2 separate regions of the Homo sapiens genome follow, and region 2 is linked to region 1. The links come from fine-mapping of genetic effects on gene expression. A gene starts in region 1. The other region holds a variant in brackets. All regions are shown on one strand. Distances are from middle to middle. Region 1 holds the start of NANS (N-acetylneuraminate synthase). Region 2 overlaps NANS (N-acetylneuraminate synthase).

Region 1 (16,626 bases):
GTGCATGCCTGTGGTCCCAGCTACGTGAGAGGCTGAGGCAGGAGAATTGCCTGAACCCAGAAGGCGGAGGTTGCAGTGAGCCAAGATTGCACCACTGCACTCCAGCCTAGGTGACAGAGCAGACTCTGTCTCCAAAAAATAAAAATAAAGAATGCACCTCCGAACTAGAAGTAGGATCCTTAAACAACAGCCTCCTAAGACAGAAAAAAAACAACAGCCAAGACTACTTCCTGTAAATTGTGCTCAGCCACCCCTAACTTTGTAGCTCTCGTCCACCATTTCACATGCCAAGGTCAAATCCTCTCTCAGTACAAGGTCATCTCTGGTATCTCTTGTTAAATCAAGTTTAGCCTAAAGCTGCCTCCTTACATATTTTAAGTTCAGCCTAAAGGTTTCTCTGTACATCGTGAACTATAACAAGTGGAGGTATAAACAAACCATGGCCCACACCTGTGCCAATTACTGAGTTTTTGGCCAATCAAATGTAGCCAACTGTTTGAACTGTGTTCAAATAAGACAAATGCTGAGCTGTAACCAATCCAGTTGTTTCTGAACCTCACTTCCGTTTTCTGTACATCACTTCCCTTTTTCTGTCGTAAACCTTCTTCCACCACATGGCTGTGCTAGAGTTTCTGAGCCTAGCCTGGCTCAAAAGGCTCCCCAGTTCATGGATTGTTCATTTCTCAACTAAACTCCTTTAAATTTAATTCAGCTGAAGTTTTGCTTTCATCAGATGGGGTCAGAAACAGGATCTGAAGTAGAGCTTCTTCTAATGACCCCCAGGGGTGCTGAGTGATCAAGCAAGGTACCTGCAGGACCCATTTGTGTCCATTGATCTCTTGGAGCAGCTGGGGATCATGGTAAGTTCTTGCTCAGATTTCAGAACTCCATGGATTTGTGCTTTGAGCTCTCCGAGTTTCTTTGAGGAAATTTCTGTTCCAAACTGGGTTTGGAAATCACAACAGAAATTGGACTGGGTCCGGGATTGAATTAGATCTGGTAATTAACTGGCTTGGATCCAGTTAAGGCCTCTTACAACTGACTGGGTCAGAAAGAAACTGGTAGTAAATGGTAATATTGCAGGGGGTGTAAAATTTGGGTTTTGGAAATTCACAGGGATTTTTGTTTTTCACCCCTTTGTTTCATTTTTCTTCAGTGCTTACACAGGAAAAAAAATCATTGGCTAAGTTAATCAAGGGAACCCGAGAGCAAACCCAATATCCTAGGTAAAAATTTGATACTTAATTTCTGAAGAACTGAGTTCCTTCTGACTTATACATGCGTAAGTATTAGGGCCCTGGAAGCAGCGAAGTCTTACAGAAATGGTGAAATCGTACTAAAGGTAACTTACAGTGGAACATTCCAAATGAATAAAACTGCACTGAAATGCATTTGAAAATGAGGGCTCCCTAATTAGTCTCATCTAGGGATGTCTGTTGATATGCAGAAGAGTTTTTTTGTTTTTTGTTTTTTTTTTCAGAGATGGAGTTTCGTTCTTGTTGCCCAGGCTGTAGTGCAATGGCGTGATCTCGGCTCACAGCAACCTCCGCCTCCCGGGTTCAAACAATTCTCCTACCTCAGCCTCCTGAGTAGCTGGGATTACAGGCATGCGCCACCACACTCGGCTAATTTTGCATTCTTATTAGAGAGGGGGTTTCACCATATTGGCCAGGCTGATCTTGAACTCCTGACCTTGTGATCCACCCGCCTTGGCCTCTCAAAGTGCTGGGATTACAGGCGTGAGCCACTGCGCCCAGCTGATATGCAGAAGAGTTTAAAAAGATTTCCATATTTTTATTTAAAGCCTTTACAAAAGGCAAATAAAAAGCTTAGGCAACTAATTGATTAAAAAAAATTAAATCTGCCTTGTACTCTTTGCTGACAGCTATGAGTGACAGGATTAGGCACGTACAGGACCTTAGAACCTGGGGAAACTTTTCCCCCCAAAGGTGAAATTTAAGGGCTGATGGGACAGCTGGAAAAGGTCCCTTTGTGACCAAAAAGTGACCACTTGAACTTTTGATTCAGTATCACTGCAATGGGTGGGTGATATGGCTTTGTTGTGTCCCCAACTAAATCTCATCTTGAATTGTAGCTCCCATAATTCCCATGTGTTGTGGGAGGGACCTAGTGGGAGAGAATTAAATCATGGTGGCGGTTTCCCCCATACTGTTCTCATGGTAGTGAGTAAGTCTCACGAGATTTGATGGTTTTTATAAGGGGAAATCCCTTTTGCTTGGTTTTCATTCTCTCGTCTGCTGCCATGTAAGACGTGCCTTTTGCCTTTCACCATAACTGTGAGGCCTCCCCCACCACGTGGAACTGTGAGACCATCAAACCTCTTTTTCTTTATAAATTACCCAGTCCTGGGTGTGTCTTTATCAGCAGTGTGAAAATGGACAAATACAGTAAATTAGTACCAGTAGAGTGGACCACTGCTGTAAAGATACCCAAAAAGATATTCAAGCTCTAACAGCCTGGGACTCCTTGGGTAAAACAGGAGGCACCACAGAGCCTGTTTTGGGAAAAACCTCTGTTTTTCTCATGAAACCCCAGGAATTGGAAGCAGTTAGAGCCCTCTCAAAATCTAAGGCTCTGTTCTTTTCTGCATTGCATTATCTGATATTTTTGAGTTTTGGGGGTACCAGAAGTTACTTCACATTATGAGAGAAATTTAGTGTGTAATAGCTAGGTAGGAAATACAGTTTTGGGGATAGCTAATGGCAATTATGGGGGAATTCTCAGCTCTTTGCATGTTCGGATCAGAGAAGCATGCTCTTGGCCACCTAGAAAGCATGGAAATGAGCCGGGCGTGGTTCCTCATACCTGTAATCCCAGCACTTTGAGGGGGTCAAGGCAGGTGGATCACAAGGTCAGGAGTTTGAGACCAGCCTGGCCAATGTGGTGAAACTTCATCTCTACTAGAAATACAAAAATTAGCTGGGCGTGGTGGCACATGCCTGTAGTGCCAGCTACTCAGGAGGCTGAGGCAGAAGAATCGCTTGAACCCAGAAGGTGGAGGTTGCAGTGAGCTGAGATCATGCCACTGCACTCCAGCCTGGGTGATGGTGTGAGACTCCTTCTCAAAAAAAAAAAAAAAAAAAGTATGGAAATGTCACCCACACCCCCTGACTGAGAGACAAGACTCCCATGGATGATGGGCTAGTCACAGAATGGGCTGGTTAGCTTTGGATTGCTTTGCAATTAAATGCATGGTAAAATCATTGCACTGTCTTGTTCATAGCATTTCTCCTTTTGGGATCTGAGATCTGGTCTAAAAATGAAACCCTTAATATTGGGGGAATCCATTTTACCTTCCAGGTGTGCCTGCTTATTAGGTCCTAGAAACTGCTTTCCTCACCCTGTTCTACAAAGGGCTCCACTCTAAAGCCAGTAATCCAATTAAGAAATATAAAAACTGGCAAATGAAAAATCCTACAGCTACTGGATCTTCTTCCATCTGTCTGTCTGTGTAGTTATATATGTGTTGTGCGTGTGATGTTTATATAAAAGAGCTCTGATTAATTGGCTTCAAGAAAAATAAGTACTTAAATATTTTGAAAGAAAAATAAAAACTGTAATGCCTTTTAGTTCACATGACTTTAGTAACCTTTGGGAAATAAAAACAATTTTGAAGATTATTGGTAAAATAAAGATATTTAGTCTAATTTAGGCAGGTCAGATATTAGGTTTGCTAAATGCTTTAAGGTTATAAACTGCTTCTTTGGCTTTTGAAAATCGTTCAACTTGAGTAAAGGAATAGGCTGGGCATGGTAGCTCATGCCTATAATCTCAGCAATGTGGGAGGCCGAGGCAGGTGTATCACAAGGTCAGGAGATCGAGACCAGTCTGGCCACATGGTGAAACCCAGTCTCTACCAAAAATACAAAAATTAGCCAGGCGTGGTGGCGGGCACCTGTAATTCCAGCTACCTGGGAGGCGAGACAGGAGAATTGCTTGAACCTGGGAGGCGGAGGTTGCAGAGAGCCGAGATCATGCCACTGCATCCCAGCCTGGGTGACAGAGCAAGACTCTGTCTCAGAAAAAAAAAAAGAGTAAGGAATAAAGAGTGGCTATTCTGGCCGGGAGCGGTGGCTCATGCCTGTAATCCTAGCACTTTGGGAGGCCAAGGTGGGCAGGTCACCTGAGGTCAGGAGTTTGAGACCAGCCTGACCAACATGGAGAAACTCCATCTCTAATAAAAATACAAAAATTAGCCAGGCGTGGTAGCGCATGCCTGTAATCCCAGCTACTCAGGAGGCTGAGGCAGGAGAATCACTTGAACCTGGGAAGTGGAGGTTGCAGTGAGCCAAGATTGCACCACTACACTCCAGCCTGGGCAACAGAGTGAGACTCTGCATAAAAAAAAAAAAAAAAAAAAAAAAAAGAATGACTATTCCATATGCAGAGCACCCCCAAGGGCTGCTGGCTGTCCACTTTAATGATCATTTCCTAATTATATGCTAAAGAAGGGGTGGGTTATTCATGAGTTTTCCAGGAAAGGGGTGGGCACTTTCTGGAACTGAGAGTTCTTCCCCCTTTTAGACCATATGGGGTAACTTTCTATGTTGCTATGACATTTATAAAGTGTCATGGCACTGATGGGAGTGTCTTTTAGCATGCTAATACATTATAATTAGTGTATAATGAACAGTGAGGACAACCAGAGGTCACTCTCATTGCCATCTTGGTTTTGGTGGGTTTTGGCTGACTTCTTTACCACTACTTTTTATCAGCAAGGCCTTTGTGACATGTACCCTGTGTCAACCTCCTGTCTCTTCTTGTAACTAGGAATGCTTTAACCTCATGGGAATGCAGCTCAGAAGGTTTCAGCCTTATTTTATCTAGCCCCCATTCAAGATGGAGTCACTCTAGTTCAAATGCCTCTGCCACAGTGATAAAAGAAAAACTTCAGCTGAATTAAGTTTAAAGATGTTTGATTGATCAATGAGCAAGTCACGAATTGAGCAGCTTTTTGAGCCAGGGTAGGCATAGAGACTCCAGTGCAGCTTTGTGGTAGAAGAAGATTTATGGACAGGAAAAGGAAAGTGAAGTACAGAAAACACAAATGAGGTTTAGAAGCAACTGGATTGCTTACATTTCAGCGTTTGCCTTATTTTAACACAGTTGGAACAATTGGCTACATTTGATTGGCCCAAACTCAGTGATTGGCACAGATATGGGCTACAGTCTGTTTACATCTCCACTTGTTGTAGTTCATGATGTACAGAAAATCTTTAGGCTGAACTTAAAATATATAAGGAGGCAGCTTTAGGCTAAACTTGATTTAACAATTCCCCCCTTTTGATCATTTTCTCAATTTTGAGAGATTGACCAAAACTTTAGTCATTCATGTCACCATCCCAGCATAAATATACTTATTTGGTCTTGAAACCCACTGGGAAACAGTAGAACAGTGAGTTTTGCAAGGTGGGAACAAGGACTGAGTAGAGGGTACCTCCTTATGCTGGAACCTCCTGTTTACAGAAGAAAAACAAAACCTGGTTTGTTCTAGGACCTATGTGTTCCTTAAAGTCTTAGTATTGCTATGTCACATTTAGCACGAGTGACTCCATTTTGGTTTGGTTTGGGGCCTAGTGCTCATTCCAAAACAATGGCCTCCCCTAATTTTGTTTTTAAATATTCCCCCTTTTTGGTCACATTCTCCCTTAGGTGAGAGTTCTTACTTAGGTGAGACGGTGACCAAAACTTAGGGCCTTAACGCCACTCTCAGTTACCATCATTTTGGGTTTCTGGTCTCAGCGTGTCATTCATAGGTTATGGTGTCCTCATGGTTGCACATTTCTTTTTTTGAAACAGAGTCTACTCTGTCACCCAGGCTGGAGTGCAGTGGTATGATCTTGGCTCACTGTAACCTCCACCTCCTGGGTTTAAGCGATTCTCATGCCTCAGCCTCCTGAGTAGCTGGGTTTACAGGCAGGCACCGCCACACCCAGCTAATTTTTGTATTTTTAGTAGAGACAGGGTTTCACCATGTTGGCCAGGACGATCTCGAACTCCTGGCCTCAAGTGATCCACCTGCCTTGGCCTCCCAAAGTGCTGGGATTACAGGAGTGAACCACCACACCCGGCATGGTTGCACATTTCTTTCAGCTCTTGTCATTCCAACTGAAGAGAGACCGTTTGATATTCTAAAGATGGCTGTGTGCAAACACTTAAAACCTTTGAGAGAATACAGCACACCAGGGAGACTACTATTATGACTATCGCGAGGATAACACCAAGTGTTTGGAGTATTCTCCTTATCCAGGGTCCCCATAAACCAAACCACCTGAAATTAAATAGATCAAAGAATGAGCTAGATGAAGAGTCTACTCGCTTAACTAAGCAGTCTTTCCACTAATCCCCTACAACTGAATCTCTATAATGCCCGACGTGATATATTTATCCATAGGCCACAAGTGCCAGCAGCTGCACAGATACTTCTGTGCCAGTAAGTAATCTAGAGCAATTCCATTATTTAGCATAACTTTCATAAGATAAAGTCTGTTGTGGAACCATAGACTTTACAGTAGAACCTGCTATAGAACCTATCATGGGGGATACATTTCTAATCATTGCCCCTTTTACTCCAAACCATAGAAAAAGGACTTAACAAATGATGCCCTTCTAGAGGAGTGAAGGCCTCCTGGCAATGATTTCTTTAACCCATGATGTGGGTTAAGAGGAGTGAGCCAATGTTCTAACAAGCAGCCACAGCTGGAAGGCAAAAACAGATCCCCAAAATGAAGGGTCCCATTTTTATACTGGATCCTGGATCCCCAAAAAGAAGGGAAATGCTACCAGAGAAGATAGTGCAATGCTTCTACTGTGGATTTCATTGCAAGGCAACCCAAAGCCAATCAGCTCATTTTGTAATCAGCCCATCTCTTATGGGAATCTCATATTTAGCAGGGGTGAGGGGGTGGGGTGGAGATGTTTCCATGCCTCTAGGTGGTCAAGAGCGTGCTTCTTTGATCCAAGCGTGCAAAGAGCCAAGTATCCCTCCTAACTGCCATTAGCCATCCCTTAAAATATATTCGCTACCTGGTTATTACACACCAAGGCTAAAAGCTCTCTCACAATGCAAAGTAATTTTGGACAACCTGCCCCCAAAGTCACAAGTGTCAGGTAATGTAATGTAAAACAGAACAGAGCCTTAGACTTTGAGAGGACTCTATCCTCCTTCAATTTCTGGGGTTACATGAGGGAAACAGAGGTTTTTCCTAGAATGGGGTCTGTGACACCTCCTCTGTTTTTCCCCAGGAGTCCCAGGCTGTTAGTAATTATCTTAGGTTCTCTCATGTGGACCTCAAGAATGGCAAGAAGACAAAATGGAGAAAAACAATTCAGTTGACTGAAAAGAAAAAAAAAAACTTTAATTTTCCTTCAGAAAAATAAGATCCAAGAAGAGAAAAGAAAACAAACATAAAGGCTTTTTAAATATATGTACAGTTTGCATATCCACTTTTTATTAAGCTGATTTTAACCATATAGCTCTTTTTTCTTAAAAAAAAAACTGTTAAATTTTTGTTTTGTTTGTTTGAGACAAAGTTTTGCTCTTGTTGCCCAGGCTGGAGTGCAATGGCATGATCTCGGCTCACTACAACCTCCACCTCCTGGGTTCAAGTGATTCTCCTGCCTCAGCTTCCCGAGTAGCTGGGATTACAGGCGTGTGCCACCACGCCTGCCTAATTTTATATTTTATTAGAGATGAGGTTTCTCCATGTTAGTCAAGCTGGTCTCAAACTCCTGATCTCAGCTGATCCACTCTCCTTGGCCTCCCAATGTGCTGGGAATACACGCGTGAGCCACCGTGCTCAGCCCAAAATCTTTTATTACCAGACTAGCCAGGACAGCCAATATTTCTGGCTTTTGAATTCTACCACAGGTAACCTCCCATGTGAAATTAATACATTTTAACTAAGGTCATAACTTAACCATGGATGCATAAAGTGTCTTAAAGAGATGGTAAGCAGTTTTTGTTTTCGTTTTCTAATAATTAGAGTCTCCCCAAAGGTAGTTCAGCAAAAGTAAGAATAAAGACAGAAAACCAGAATCGGTCCATGGGGAAAAAGAATCAATAAATGGCAAAAAGTTACACAAATAACAAACCAGAAAGGGCTCACTCCCTAAGCCCCCTGAGCCAAGAATTGAACCTGGGCCACCACTGTCAAATGCCAAAGCCTTAGTACTGAGCTACCGCATTAAGCACTTTCTATTGCTCTTCCCAGAAGGAAGATTTTGAGCTTGCGAAGGCTTTTAACTGCTCAAGATAATTTTTAGGGCTACCTATGACATGAACCCCAAAATTCCTGTCCTCTGGATGGCAGAATCCAAGATAAAGTATCCTCACATGGTCACAAGGTTAAGTTCAAGGACATAAAACAACATGAGAGAGAAACTTCATCTGGTATTGGTTTCAGGGACTCACAGAAAAGTTTGTAAGTGACCAGCCTGCTGAACTGGCTTTGGACAGTTGGCTTATATGGCTCCTAAGTCCATGTTCTATCCTGTGATGCCCCCTCCATTATAGAACAACACAGAAAAACAAATTCATAGCACTAAGTACACCAGATTTTCTATAGCCTAAACTAGTCTCATAAGTCTTTTTTTCTATTAATCAGACCTTTGTAGAGGAGACAGTGATGTTTAACATACACACACACACACATACAGGCCAGAAAGTTGGCTAATAAGTTGTTACCCTTTTTGCCGGCATACCAGGTTTCCAGGTTCCCTTTCTCTGCAGCTTCCAGAAGAACGGAGCGGCCTTTGATAACTGTTCACTATGCTATAGCTGTGGGGGCCAAGCCCACTACAAAATAAATAAATAAATAAATAAATAAATAAATATCATCCTTTTCTGTTTTATGGAACCATAGGCAAAGCTTCTCAACTTTGTAAGATGCTGCCCGATGGGCTGCATGGAGAACCGAATTAACATTTTCCGTCTCAGCTGAAGCAAAATACACATAACAAAACAGATAGTAGTCACCTCATTGGGCACCCAGTATCACCCTAGCAAGGCTCAAACTGTCTTCCTTTGGTCCCTATCATCTTTGATCCACTCAAGGTGGGGAGGGATGGCATCAATGAGTAGTCTCTGGGCAAGACAAAGAGCAGAGAGTTACCCCTTAACAGTCAGGCCTGTTAAGCTTTTTTTTCAGAGCTCACTGAATGTGACCATACTTACAGAGGGTTTTCTGAGTTAGGCCTGCTGGACTTGCATCAGAAATTCCCTCAGAGATCCCCTCCACATATACAAACACACACACAAAGACAAGACGGACAGAAGGCCTTCCAAACCAAGATCCCTAACCAAGAATTCCAAGAGTATTCCTTCCAAACTATCCTATTCTCCATCTGAGAAGTCTCCCCGAAATCTTACTGATTGAGGAGAAGTCTCCAGAACCAAGACTCTTCCTACTAATTAGGGAGAGTAAACCGAGACCCCTGAAGAAGCTGAACCAATTGGGAGAAGGAAAGGGGTGTTGGCAGCACCTAGACTACTCACCAAATCAGACACCCCATAATGGGGCTGCAGCTGCAGACAATCCATGATGGGGCTACAAACAGACACTGTGATAAGGTTACAGTTACAGGCACCCCATGGTGGAGCTACAGAGGGACACCTTGCCATGGAGCTCTAGTTATGAGATATCTCCCCAGGACAATTTCTCTATTGCAAAGTGTACTCCATACATATTGGGCTAGTAGTGCCCTGCCGATAGAGATGACGCCAGAGTCAGCCCCCAGTCCAAAACTAGGTGGCCGCTTGGGCTGGCCTCTGGATCCATCGCCAGAGGGGGTCTACAGAACCGGGGCAGGTAGCACAAGAGCAATCCCGAATGAGCCCCCAAATTTTTAACTGCTCAACTGGTTCACCATGCCCACTACCTACACAGCTGATTTATCAAAATAGGGGAATTGCAATAGAGAGAGTAATTCATGCAGAGCCAGCTGTGCAGTCTGGCTGAGTTTTATTATTACTCACATCAATTTCCCCTAGCATTCAGGGATCAGAGGTTTTTGGGGTTTTTGTTTGTTTGTTTTTGAAATGGAGTTTCGCTCTTGTTGCCCAGGCTGGAGTGCAATGGCACAATCTCAGCTCACTGCAACCTCCGCCTCCCAGGTTTAAGCGATTCTCCTACCTCAGCCTCCCAAGTAGTTGGGATTACAGGCATGCACCACCATACCTGGCTCATTTTGTATTTTTAGTAGAGACAGGGTTTCACCATGTTGGCAAGGCTGGTCTCGAACTCCTGACCTCAGGTGATCCACCCGCCTCAGCCTCCCAAAGTGCTAGGATTACAGGTGTGAGCCACTATGCCCCACCTTGGAGATCAGAGTTTTTAAGGATAATGTGGTGGGTTAAGAGAGGCCAGTATGCCAGGAGTGCTGATTGGTTGTGTTGGAGATAAAATCATAGAAAGTCAAGGCTGTCTTCTTGTGCCAAGTCAGTTCCTGGTTGGGGGACACAAGATCAGATGAACCAGTTTATCAATCTGGTGGTGCCAGCTGATCCATCAAGTGCAGGGTCTGCAAAATATCTCAAGCACTGGTCTTAGGTTTTACAATAGTGATGTTATCCCCAGGAGCAATTTGGGGAGGGTCAGAATCTTGTAGCCTCCAGGTGCATGACTCCTACGTGTCTAATCTTGTGGCTAATTTGTTAGTCCTACAAAGGCAGTCTAGTTCCCAGGAAAGAAGGAGGTTTATTTTGGGAAATAACTTATCTTATTTTTTAAATTAATTAATTAATTTATTTATTTTTGAGACAGAGTCTTGCAGTGTCACCAGGCTGGAGTGCAGTGGTGTGATCTGGGCTCACTGCAACCTCCACCTCCCGGGTTCAAGCGATTCTCCTGCCTCAGCCTCTCGAGTAGCTGGGATTACAGGCACGCACCACCACGCCCGGCTAATTTTTTTGTATTTTTAGTAGAGACGGGGTTTCTCCATATTGGTCAGGCTGGTCTCGAACTCCTGACCTCAGGTGATCTGCCTGCCTTGGCCTCCCAAAGTGCTGGGATTACAGGTGTGAGCCACCGCGCCCGCCCAGGTGATTGTATTTTAAGAGCCTGGGGCTGGGAGGTCCGGGTACTAGTCCCATCTCTGCTTTGGCTTTCTGGATGGCTTTGGACAAGCCAGTGCAACTTCTCGAACCTGTTGCCTCTCATATAATAGGAACCTCCGCCACTTCTTGAAAACTTACTACAAGCCAAGTATTGTGATCAGGGGTTTCTATACGTCATCTCACAGTTCTATTTTATTTTTTTGCTTCAGAGAGAAACAAAAATAACGCTCCGGAAGACTGAGTAACGTATATATGAGCAGGAGCTGGTGACTGGCATAGGCTGGACTCGATCCAGCTCTGTGATTCTAACTCTAGCAACCCTGTTTTTTCCATTACACCATAGGGCGCGCTCTCCCCATGCTCCTGAGAGCAGGACATAGACTATGCCCTGCGCAGGCAGCCGTCCGCCTCCTGCAGGGAATGCTTGCTCCTGGGTGCACGCACGGATACCGCGATGGTCCGAGACCACGCTCTGGGACAGCAAGCCTCAAGCCTCGCACAGGAGAGGGCCGCGGAGCTTCCTCGACCCGCCCCGCCGCCCTTCCCGCGGGAGGCCCCGCCCCCGCCCCCCGCCCCGATTGGCTGTCGGGAGAGAGGCGGGGCCTAGGGGATTGGCTGCCCGGCGACCGCGGGCTGACGTGGCGGGGCTGGCGTGTGGGTCTCGCAGCGTTGCTCACAGAACAGAGTAGAGGCGGCGGCGGCGGCGGCCGGACCCAGACTGGTAGTGAGGCTTTGGACCCCGAGCCGCTGCAATGCCGCTGGAGCTGGAGCTGTGTCCCGGGCGCTGGGTGGGCGGGCAACACCCGTGCTTCATCATTGCCGAGATCGGCCAGAACCACCAGGGCGACCTGGACGTAGCCAAGCGCATGATCCGCATGGCCAAGGTGAGGCGGCAGCTCCCGGGACCCGGGATTCGGGCGCCGGGAGGGGCGGGGCGGGGCCGCGGGGAGCCAGGGCCACACGGCCTCCGCGGCTGGGTACCCTGGTCCGGCCTCTTCCCGCCCGCCAGTTCCGTTTTCGGAATCCTTCGGATCCCTCTTCCTCACCGTGTCCGCCACCCTCGTGACCTTTCTGCATTACAGCAGCTGCCTCCTAACCCGACCTGTTTCCTCCCCGTTCTGGTGCCAGAATAATCTTTCTAAAAGTCAGACTTGATCAGACCATCCCCCCTGCCTGGCACCTTCTGTGGCTCCCTCCTGCCCGCGGGTAGAGTCGAAACCCTTTAACATAGCCTTCAAGATTTTAATGACTGGGCCCCTTCCAGCCCGTCATAATTCTTCTCTGACATTCTTCAGCGACACAGAGTTACTTTCAGGAATGACAGTTCCTGGAAGTTGCTGTGGTCTCTCTCACCCGCCATTCCCTGTATATGAAATATGAAGTGGTTAAAAGCCGGGCCTTTGAGTTCAAATCTCAGTTCCACCACTACTAGCTGTGTGAACATGGGCTGCTTACTTAGCCTCCGTGAACCCTTTTCCCCATTTGAAAACGGGGCTTGAAAACAACAGTTCTTTCCACATGGAGTTGTTATGGGGATCAAATGAGATTCTCAGATAGAGCTCTGAGCCCAGCACTTGGCACACATGAGTCGGTAAATGCGTGCTCCCTCTTCTGTTGGGACTGCCATATTCTTCATTACGACCCCAGCCCCCAGCATAAGGCCTGGCCTGCACTATGATTCTTTGGTTTAGAGATAGCTCACCCCATCTTTCCTTTCCCTTCATCAATGCTACTCAACTGATTTTGTATCATTTGTGATAGGTTTTTTAAATGTTTATTTATTTATTTATCTATGTTAGAGACAGGGTCTTGCTCTGTCACCCAGGCTGGAGGTTTTCTCTTACTGTTTTTTTTTTTTTTTCCTGGTTTTTTTTTTTTTTTTTTTTGAGACAGGGTCTCTGTATCACCCAGGCTGGAGTGCAGTGGCATGATCCCGGCTCACTGCAACCTCTGCCTCCCAGGCTTAAGTGATTCTCCCACCTCAGCCTCCCGAGTAGCTGGGACCCACAGGCGTGAACCACCATGCTGGGCTAATTTTTTTGTAGAGATGGGGTTTGGCCATGTTACCCAGGCTGGTCTCGAACTCCTGAGCTCAAGCAATCTGCCCACCTTGGCCTCCGAAAGTGCTGGGATTACAGGTGTGAGCCACCACCCTCGGCCCTTGCTGTTCCTTCGGGACTGGTTTTATGGAAACCTAATCACTGAATCATAAAAATACTTTACAAAAATAACATTGCTAACATTTTTTGAGTGCTTACTCTACCAGGTACTAAGCTAAATGCTGTACATGCACCATCTCATTTAATTTTTACAACAACCCAATGCCATGATGCTGCCGATTTCATTTTAAAGGCTAAGAGAAAATAAGTGACTTAGGCAAGGTCACATAGCTAGTATAATAAATACAGTAAGGGGTTTTTTCAGTTTTTGCTCCTAAGCCACAGGACTCCAGCCTTTCTTCTGCAACATTGTTTTCTAGAGGGAAATTCCCACTCTTAATTTGAAGGAGCAGTCTGTTTTTCCTCTTGGAATGCCGAAGTTGTAGAAATATCTAGAGATACTGAAGCCATAGAAACAAAGCTGTACTGACCAGGTGCAGTGGCTGATTCCTGTAATCCCATCACTTTGGGAGGCTGAGGAAGGCAGATTGCTTGAGCTCAGGAATTCGAGACCAGCCTGGGCCACATAGCGAGACCCTGTCTCTAATTCCATTGAGCTGGAATCTAGGTGGCTGCAGCCTTTAGGAAAGGGATCTGGCCAGCTCTGCTAGAGACACTGTGCAACTTTAGTCAGGTCAGTCTGGGCCTTGGGATCTTCATCTAGACAATGAGAGCTCTGTTGCCCAAGGTCACTTTCAGTTCTAATGTTCTTTGAACTTTCCAGCATCAAGTCCTGACTCTACCATCTTATGATTTGTCTAAGAGCAGGAGTAGTGATCTCAGCACTGACATTTCTGGACCCAAGAAGTTTTTATTTTTTTTTTTCAAGACGGAGTCTCGCTGTGTCACCCAGGCTGGAGTGCAGTGGCGTGATCTCGGCTTACTGCAAGCTCCGCCTCCTGGGTTCACACCGTTCTCCTGTCTCAGCCTCCCGAGTAGCTGGGATTACAGGTGCCCACCACCACACCTAGCTAATTTTTTGTATTTTTAGTAGAGACGGGGTTTCACCATGTTAGCCAGGATGGTCTCGATCTCCTGACCTCGTGATCTGCCCACCTCGGCCTCCCAGAGTGCTGGGATTACAGGTGTGAGCCACTGCGCCCGGCAGCCAAGAAGTTTTTAATAGCATGAATACCTCTGTGTCTACAGAAATGGCCGTGAGATGGGACTTTAGTGGGTTTTAATTACTCTTTTTCTTGAGTAGATTGTTTTTGTTTGAGTCAAGGTCTCACTCTGTTGCTCAGGCTGGAGTGCAGTGGCACCATCATAGCTCATTGCCACCTCAACCTCTGGGGATCAAGCGATCCTCCCCCCTCAGCCTCCTGAGTAGCTGGGACTACAAGCGTATGCCACCATGCCTGGCTAATTTTTATATTTTTTGTAGAGACAGGGTCTTACTATGTTGCCGAGGCTGGTCTTGAACTCCTTGGTTCAAGCAATCCTCCCACCTTGGCCTCTCAAAGTGTTTGGATTATAGGCATGGGCCACTGTGCCTGACCTCTTGAGTGTTTTTTGTTTTTTTTTTTTTATAGTCAAACAATCCGGCTTTTATATTATTGCCTCTGCTCAGTAGAAGTCATCTAGGGGCTGGGGCATTTTTGTTTTGTTTGTCTGCTTTTTAACATGTAACCTGTTCAAAGAAAATGTCATGGAGAAAAGCGCCAGTGCAAAGCAGCTAAAAGCAGAGTTGCTATTGTTGAAATCAGAGAAAGAGGCATAGGGCACTGTCCCTGGATGTTCCTGTCCCTGAGAGGGCCTCATTAGGACAGTTTACACATCCTGGAGGTAGCCCAAACTGCTTTTATATCGATGGAGAAACTGAGTCCAGAGCTGGGAAGTGACTTATCTAAGAGTTAGGGTCAAAGTTAAACCAGAATTTTTCTTTACTAAATTCTGGTCCAGTGCTGAGTTGACTATTCTTTGCTCAGTTATATAACTTAAAATCTTCCTTAACTCTTTGATCCAATGTTTTTAATATTTACAATGCAAAACAAAGGAAAAAAGTCCCATTTTTTTTTCTTTTGGCATGTTAAGAGAAAAAAATAGGGGGAGGTCTCCCATCTCCAAACAACCTTTTCTTCCTTTCAGACTTTCTTGCCTTTTCTGTTCCTCTTCCTTGGAGGTCCTTAAGGTCTCTGTCAGTCTATGTTGTTTTTAAAGATGGTGATGTCGGCTGGGCGCAGTGACTCATGCCTGTAATCCCAGCACTTTGGGAGGCCAAGGCGTTTGGATCACCTGAGGTCAGGAGTTCAAGACCAGCCTGGCCAATGTGGCGAAACCTTGTCTTTACTAAAAATAACAAAAATTAGCCGGGTGTCGTGGTGGGTGCCTGTAATCCCAGCTACTTGGGAGGCTGAGGCAGGAGAATGGCTTGAACCCGGGAGGCATTGGTTGTAGTGAGCCGAGATCACACCTTCTGCACTCCAGCCTGGGTGAAAGAGCGAAACTCTGTCTCTAAATAAATAAATAAATAAAGATGGTGATGTCATAGTGGTTGCTCCAGAATTTTTTCCTTTTTTTGAGAATCTACGACAGTCACTGAAAGATGTCCTAATGTGTGTTGTAGGAGTGTGGGGCTGATTGTGCTAAGTTCCAGAAGAGTGAGCTAGAATTCAAGTTTAATCGGAAAGCCTTGGAGAGGCCATACACCTCGAAGCATTCCTGGGGGAAGACGTACGGGGAGCACAAACGACATCTGGAGTTCAGCCATGACCAGTACAGGGAGCTGCAGAGGTACGCCGAGGAGGTTGGGATCTTCTTCACTGCCTCTGGCATGGATGAGGTGAGTCCTCTGCTGCTCTGTCATTTGTCACTTTAGCAGACCAAGGGTCAGCAGGCAGCCTGGTGACTTCCGGCTTAGGGCCACCTCCAGCCCTTGCTCATCCTTTCTGTTCCCAGCTACTGGAGAGGCTAGCAGGCGCCAAAGCCCAGTGAGAATCTGTGGGAAGGATGCCATTGTTTTAAAAACACATTGTCTCTGGCCGGGCTTGATGGCTCACACCTGTAATCCCGGCACTTTGGGAGACTGAGGGGGATGGATCACCTGAGGTCAGGAGTTCGAGACCAGCCTGGCCAACATGGTGAAACCCCATCTCTACTAAAAATACAAAAATTAGCTGGGCATGGTGGTGCGTGCCTGTAATCCCAGTTACTTGGGAGGCTGAGGCAGGAGAATCACTTGAACCTGGGAGGTGGAGGTTGCAGTGAGCCGAGATCACACCACTGTGCTCCAGCCTGGGCAACAGAACAAGAGTCCATCTCAAATTAAAAAAAAAAAAAAAAAAGGCCAGGCGCGGTGTCTCACACCTGTAATCCCAGCACTTTGGGAGGCTGAGACAGGCAGGTCACGAGGTCAAGAGATCAAGATCATCCTGGCCAACATGGTGAAAC
Region 2 (8,000 bases), 25 kb after region 1:
GCCACACCACACTCCCACAAGATGAACATTATACAAAAGAAAACTCAGTGGAAGGTTCCTTCTTTAAACAGAAAGCACTCTCTTCATCTGCCAAATGAAGTGAGAAGGGTAGGAAAATTAGATTTTATTGAAAAAATATATTTAAAACTGATGTTTTTTCAGTTCTGTCTTAGGGCTAGTTAGCAGTGTTATGAGACACAAACAGGAAGGAGTGAGGTGGAAAGGTATGGAAGGTACTGGGCATGGCAGCTGAAGCTTGCAACCCCAGCACTGTGGGAGGCCAGGGTGGGACAACTGCTTGAGGTCAGGAGTTTGAGAACAGCCCGGGCAACATAGCAAGACCCCATCTCCACAGCAAATTAAAAAAAAAAAAAAATTAGCCACATGTGGTGGCACGTGCTTGTGGTCCCAGCTACTTGGGAGACTGAGGCAGGAGGATTGCTTGACCCCAGGAGTTTGAGACCAGTCTGGGCAACATAGCAAGACCCCGTCTCTACCACAAAAGAAAAGAAAAAGATGGAAGGGGAAAAGAGAAGAGTTAAAAATAAAGCAGAGGAAGAGCAGTGAGAAAGGTGAAGGAAGGGAGGAAAGGAAGGAAACGGTGGGAGGGAGGGAGGAAGGAAAGGGAGAGAGGGAGGGAAGGAAAGGGAGGAAGGAAAGGGAGGAAAGGGAGGGAGGGAGGAAGGAAGGGAGGGAGGGAAGGAGACAGGAAGGGAGGTAGGTTGGTTGGTCCGTCGGTCCGTCGGTCCTAGACCAATCAGAGTTTGCATTTCATTTCAGCAACTTCCCTGGGAGAGGGAAAGATTTGTGCCCATGTGATCAAGTGTGAGCAACTCACTAAGCCCTAACTTATTTCTGAGTCACCATTCAGAGACATTGATTTTTTCGACTTTTGATTTCCAACTTCAAAACAAAACAAAGGGACTCAAGAAAACTTTTGAAGGTGATGTGTATGTTTATTACTCTTGTGCTGATGGTAGCAGTAGTGTATACTTAAGTCCCAACTCACCAAATTACATTATGTGCAGTTTTTAGTATATCAATTACACCTTACTGAAGCTGGAAAGAAATGATAATAAAAAGTTTTTGAGTTCTTATAATTTGACAGCAAACTGAGATTTTACTCTTATAACTTGTGATCCACTGATTCCTTCAGCAAGCATTTGCTGACATTTACCAATTTCCTGAGTCTTGTTGATGAATACTAGAGAAGGATGTTGAAGAGCACTAAATAGGTAACCTCAAGCAGTGACGTTATATCTGAAAAAAGTGACTGAGGTTCACTTTTAAGTAGGCAGCGTGCTTTGAGGCCTGAAAGGGCTCGGGTTGAATGGGCCCTGCCAGCCATGGATCCTTATGTAGAGGCTGGGCAAAAAAATGCTCCATTTTCCCCCTTTCGCCAAGAATTGAAATAGCCCCTTTTCCTGCTCGTTTGGCCGAGTAGAAGGGAAAGCCTTTGAGGCTATTCATGTTTTCACTGCCTGGTTTTCTGGGTCAGGATTAGGTCATGACCGTTTCATGTTTGTTCATTTGGCCTTGGGCCCCTGGGGCAGGTAGGGTCTGGCCAGGGGAAAGGTTCTTTTCCAGATTCTTTTTTTTTTTTGAGATGGAGTCTCGCTCTGTGGCCCAGGCTGGAGTGCAGTGGCATGATCTCAGCTCACTGCAACCTCCGCCTCCCAGGTTCAAGTGATTCTCCTGCCTCAGCCTTCTGAGTAGCTGGGATCACAGGTGCCCGCCACCACACCCGGCTAATTTTTATATTTTTAGTAGAGACGGGGTTTCACCATGTTGGTCAGGCTAGTCTCAAACTCCTGACCTCAGGTGATCTGCCCGCCTCGGCCTCCCAAAGTGCAGGCATGAGCCACCACGCCCAGCCCTTTTCCAGATTCCTGTAGCCAGCAAAGACCAGCACCAAACGTTTGTTGGGCTAATGGATGGGTGGATGCAAATGAATGTTTGCATTTGAATGAAATGACTGAGAACAAATCTTTGCCTGCTTTCAAGTTGCTGAGCGTCCCTCTACTGCCTAAGATGAGGGGTTTTTCTACTTGTATGTTATTCCTTGCCTGTCATAACAACAGTGTTTTTGGACAATGGTGAAAAGGAGCTCCCTCTTTGATTTTTGTAGATGGCAGTTGAATTCCTGCATGAACTGAATGTTCCATTTTTCAAAGTTGGATCTGGAGACACTAATAATTTTCCTTATCTGGAAAAGACAGCCAAAAAAGGTAAGTGTCTAATTTTTGACTTAAAATCGAAGGGAGTCCAAACCTTCATATTTTTACTCCCCTCATGGTGGCCCACTTTCAGCAGATTTCATGAAGACAAATTTTAGCCTCTTTTCATTTTTTTAAATAGAGATAGGGTCTCGCTGTGTTGGCCAGGTTGGTCTTGAACTCCTGGCCTAAAGCAATCCTCCCATCTCGACCTCCCAAAGTGCTAGGATTACAGGCATGAGCCACTGTGCCCTGCCAGAAACCTCTTTTCAATCAGCCTGTACTTCCATTTTTTGTAAGCTAATTTGAAAGAAAATGAATTAAGAATATGACAGTTTTTATAAGACATTTAGAAATTCTTTTTAAGAATTTTTTTTTTTTTTTAATAGAGACAAGGTCTGTCTATGTTGCCCAGGTTGGTCTTGAACTCCTGGATTCAAGTGATCCTCCTACTTCAGCCTCCCAAAGTGTTGGGATTACAGGTGTGAGCCACTGCACCTGTCCTAGAAAATTTTTTAACTAAAATTTATAAGAAATTAAGGATATGACAGTATATATAAAACCTAGCTGGGTATGGTGGTGCATTACTGTGGCCCCAGCTACTCGGGAGGCTGAGGTAGGAGGATTGCTTGAGTTTGAGACCGCAGTGGGACATGATCGTGTAAAGTGGTTTTACAACATGAACAATTTCATTTGATCCTCATAACACTCCTAGGACTGAAACAGGTCATGATTATGATGCTTGATACTTATTTCACAGGGGAGGCCTCTGAGACTCAGAGACGGACAGTACTCTGCCCAGGCACAGCTAGAAGTGGCAGCTCCACACCTCACATTCATTCACACTCTTGAATCAGCACTCATTCTACTGTACTGCCATGGTATACAACCTATTAATCAGATAAGATACTCATTTTCCTCTTGGCAGTGTGAAATTCCTCTGCCTCTTTAATTCAGTTCCTTTTGCTCAAGAACACTGTCGGGGGGCAGAGGGGAGCCCACCTTTCCTGTGGCCGAGGGCAGGAACCCAACAAGCTCCTCTCTGTTCC[C/T]CCACAGGGGCTGGCACAGTGTTTTAAGAGATGTCTGTGGAGTTCAGTTGAATGATGAGACCAGCAGTTGGGATGTGTTGGGGAGAGTCAGAACCTCTAAAGAGAAAGTGCTGATGGTGTTGGTGCTGGATTACTCAGGTCGCCCAATGGTGATCTCCAGTGGGATGCAGTCAATGGACACCATGAAGCAAGTTTATCAGATCGTGAAGCCCCTCAACCCCAACTTCTGCTTCTTGCAGTGTACCAGCGCATACCCGCTCCAGCCTGAGGACGTCAACCTGCGGGTCATCTCGGTGAGCAGGAGGGAGGGGGTTCCCTTCTTGGGCCATTTACTATGGGGAAGGCGTAGTCTTTTTTATAACCAAAATTCTAACAAACATGGCATACTTTATAATTTGAACATCCTTTGACAGTCTTGCTGTTACCAAATCAAATTCGAGCTAAGCAGTTGAGGAAGCACATACATTCTAAAGAGGGTGACTGTAAATGAAATTTTCTTGGCCAGGCGCGGTGGGTCATGCCTGTAATCCCAGCACTTTGGGAGGTCGAGGTGGGCAGATCACCTGAGGTCAGGAGTTCGAGACTAGCCTGGCCAACATGGTGAAACCCCTTCTTATTAAAAATATAAAAATTAGTCAGGCATGGTGATGCGTGCCTGTGGTCCCAGCTACTCAGGAGGCTGAGGCAGGAGAATCGCTTGAATTCAGGAGGCAGAGGTTGCAGTGAGCCGAGATTGCACCACTGCACTCAAGCCTGGGTGACAGAGTGAGACTCTCAGGGGGAAAAAAAAAAAAAAAAAAGTCTGTCTGTCAACAGACATTTGGGATGATTTTACCTTTTGGCTATTGTGAATGATGCTGCTATGAACACTAGCGTACAGATAAATATTCATCTTTTTTCATACTGAGTTATAGGAGGCCTTCTTGAAACTTCCTGGCTTTTTCTGCTTTATTTGCTGACTCTCTTATTTTCTAATGCTGAGCATCCCTGAGGCTCATACTAGTTATAGTGACAGCCTTGATGGAAATTACTCTCTCCCACGATTTTGCCTACTCAGTCATTTCACAGATGGTGAAATCCAGTCCCAAGTCGGGAAGCCTGAGATCCCACAGCAGCTTGGTGGCAAAGCTGGAACTAGAACCTGGGCATGTCCCCCTAGGCCTTTGTCTCTTACTGTCTCACGCCATCTCTCTCAGTTCTTCCTGTAGCACTGGAAATTTAACTTTATTCGAAAATATGTATGTAATTATCATTAAAACTATTATAGTAACATTAATGGAATTCTATCTATCTATCCACACATACTAGAATCCTGATATTGCAGTTGTTTTCCTTTTATATTTTCCTTTCAGTATAGTATTTGACATTGTTTTCCCCATAATATAAGCTTTCTTACATGTTGTTATACAGCCATTAACTTAAAAAGTTAGCCTTTTTGAAAACTGACATTACTCTCTTTTTACCTAAACTTTCTGTCCCTCCCAATCCTGTTTTTGCTTCACTTACAGCTTATCTAAATCACGTTATTTTTAAAATTTAAAAATGATTTCTGTGAAATATGTAATGTCGAAAGTAAACATCCCCTGCACTCCCATCCCACAGAGATTCCGATAATTAACAGTTTAGTAGACGTGACCCCAGCTATTTTCCTTTTCAGTGTATCTCCGTCCCCACTCAAGGTGCTGTCATGTCCTCTCTCTTGACACTACACATTGCAGGAGTTATTCTGCCAGCCTATCCCATCTTGGGCCTGCACATAGTACAGTGGTTTGAATTTTCAAACTTGTAGCAACCCGCACTCCATCACACACCCTTAAGCCTGGTTTTCAAGGCCTTTGCCACCTAACCCTCCTAATCTTTTGTTAAATCCCACCTGAGGCCAGACACCGTGGCTCATGCCAGTAGTCCCAGCACTTTGGGAGGCTGAGGCAGGTGGACCGCTTGAGGCCAGGAGCTTGAGACCAGCCTGGCCAATGTGGCGAAACCCTGTCTCTACTAAAAATACAAAAATTAGCTGGGCGTGGTGGCGGGCACCCATAGTCCCAGCTGCTCAGGAGGCTGAGGCAGGAGAATCGCTTGAACCCAGGAGGCAGAGGTTGCAGTGAGCTGAGATCACGCCATTGCACTCCAGCCTTGGTGACAGAGCAAGACTCTGTTTCAAAAAGAAATAATAAATAACAATAAAATAATAATACACGCTACCTGAGTCTTTCTACTGTACTCAGCTTTCTGGTCACCCTCACCAACAAGACTCACCCATCTTAGAGTGTCTTTTGTTGCATTCAGTGAATTATAGATAACGGATTAATTATTTATCATTTTCACCAAAGGATTGTTTTGAGATTGGGCTGTGTATATTATTGATGATATTTGTGCATATAGCACACTTGCTTTCAGCAGCTCAGGCTAATTAAATGTGACAGATGGTTTTTGAATGAGGTTAGACATTCATTTATAGTTCTGTTGTTACTCTTGGTGTATTGTGCAATGTGAAACATTCTTAAAATGCATTCTTTAGAATAACAGTAACCATTTTTAGAGCATTTACAATGTGCTGAGTGCTTCTCATGCATTTACAGCAACACTCAGCAGGTATTATTATCATCCCTAGGAAAGAGAGGCTCAGAGAGCCTCAGTATCTTGCCCCTGGCTGCACAGCTAGTGAGTGGCTAAACCGGGGCTCAACCAGATACGCTTCACCTGGAGAATATGCATAAAGCAGCATGATATTTAATGTTATTTTTCTTTTTCCATTTTAAAGGAATATCAGAAGCTCTTTCCTGACATTCCCATAGGGTATTCTGGGCATGAAACAGGCATAGCGATATCTGTGGCCGCAGTGGCTCTGGGGGCCAAGGTGTTGGAACGTCACATAACTTTGGACAAGACCTGGAAGGGGAGTGACCACTCGGCCTCGCTGGAGCCTGGAGAACTGGCCGAGCTGGTGCGGTCAGTGCGTCTTGTGGAGCGTGCCCTGGGCTCCCCAACCAAGCAGCTGCTGCCCTGTGAGATGGCCTGCAATGAGAAGGTGTGTCCTGCCGGACTCTACTCGGTTCTGCTGCCGTGTGTGGAAAAAGGATAGGCTGGCCTGAGAGGGATGGTCAGGACCAGCCCTCCCTGAGCCAGGCTGATGAAATGATCAGTGAATGTGCTCCCACCCGTGTCAGCTTCTTCAGGCTTCTCTTCAGTAATGCATGTCACTCTGGCCTGTAGCAGCAGCAGGAGACACATGTTATCTAACTTTAGCAGTTTCTCTGGCCACCTAGGGTCACATTAGAGTCTTCCACTAATTCTCTGAAGCCCATGGCCCCAGTACTCCTAGACTCCAGAATATGTAACAGGAGTGAGGCCCTGGAATAAGTCAAGTCTGGGCTCCCTTGGAGCAGGTAAGCCCTGAGAAACATTTAGGCACGGTGTTCCCTGAGGTACCAGAAGAGCCTGTGGCATTTCCTAAGCCAGGGTGGCACTGGTGGGAAGGGCAGTGAGTCGTTGCAGAGGTGGGTGGGTGATGATGCAGCTATTCCTTGTGCAACAGTGACCTTCAGACAGAGGAACTGGTGGGCCTAGAAGCACTGCCTGGCATGCTGACTATCAGGGCTTCCTGGAAGCCGTGGCCTGGACCTTCTTGCCTTCTGAGTCATAGAGCCAGGCAGGCATCCTGGGGCTGCCAGGCACACACACACCTAACCTGTAGGCTGTCGGGGTCAAGGCAAAGACCAAACACCAGGCATGCCTGGGACTGTTGTCACCTTTTATTCTAGTGGGGCCTACCTGCTTCCCCAAATCAAAGATGCATCTATACCAGGAAATTAAAATAAAGTAAAAAGAAATAGTTTCTTTATAGAGGAAACAGGAGAGAATTAGACCAGAAACCAGAGTAAGATTTATAACAGCTGAGCACTTAATTTGGCTCTCTGAGCAGACAGTAAAACATAACAGGATGCATGATTATCACTTGACATTTTTTCCTGGCACCACATTCCAAGCAGAATTGATTCCTTGTACTCTTACGTGGAGGATATAGAGTAATAAAACACGTAATTTATTTGAAAGCATTTATAGAGAAGACAAACACTGGTCATGAGCTTCAGGTACCCTTCATTCCCTCATCTGCCTGTATTATCTGCCCCTTCCTCGGGGGCTCCTTTTCTTGCCATCTGCATAACAGCCACATTCACCATCTTATGAGTCCTTCATATTTCTATTTTACCAAACAAAGTGGCGGTAAGGTGTGTGCCCTGGAGAACGGTGTGTCAGGAGTTAAGAATCTCATCCCTATGTTATGTTTCATCTTGGCTGTCTGCAACCCTGGCCAAGTCACCCACCCTGTATGGGCCTCAGTTTCCCCATGTTTACAATGAGATACTGAGCTGAATGGTAACCAAAAGAATCAGAGTTTGCATGTATTGAGAGCATTCTATGTTCCACGTACATTCTGTAATATCACCAATCCTTACAGTCATCTGACAGGATAAGTTTCCATTTGACAGAGAAACTAAAACGTGGCCTATACCCCACAGACTGGGATTTGAACCTGGCTCCGCCTACATAGCCTCAGCCCTTTCCTTTGCACTTTGTTGTAAAGGCTCCTCCTCTGAGTCTCTGAATTCAATCTATACTGGTTGAATTCCTGCCATGTATGAGATATTCTGAGCAGTGTAGGGGGCAACAGAGTGCCTGCTCCCAAGGTACTGCCTGGGGAAGACTGATCAGGGACCTTGAGTGTAAAGTAAAG

Evidence for each region.
Region 2: its variant is fine-mapped to the expression of NANS in whole blood (TOPMed, PIP 0.94).

Annotation. Positions count from the first base shown.
Region 1 is chr9:98,044,980-98,061,605 of GRCh38, forward strand. It overlaps NANS (N-acetylneuraminate synthase), which reads left to right and starts at 11,753. Exons shown (of 6, transcript NM_018946.4): 1 at 11,753-11,961; 2 at 15,803-16,018. The coding sequence starts at 11,830. It overlaps LOC124902227 (a long non-coding RNA gene), which reads left to right and starts at 593. Exons shown (of 2, transcript XR_007061687.1): 1 at 593-860; 2 at 1,481-3,224. It also overlaps a transcript of TRIM14 not described here. RefSeq lists enhancers at 626-695, 796-845, 11,262-11,311, 12,352-12,471 and silencers at 11,502-11,851, 11,932-12,101.
Region 2 is chr9:98,074,790-98,082,789 of GRCh38, forward strand. NANS (N-acetylneuraminate synthase) reads left to right here. Exons shown (of 6, transcript NM_018946.4): 3 at 2,129-2,228; 4 at 3,404-3,558; 5 at 6,027-6,293. It also overlaps a transcript of TRIM14 not described here. Among named protein-coding and RNA genes, the nearest start is that of NANS, 22 kb to the left of the region's middle. RefSeq lists an enhancer at 1-650. The variant C/T (reference allele first, on the strand shown) is at 3,266.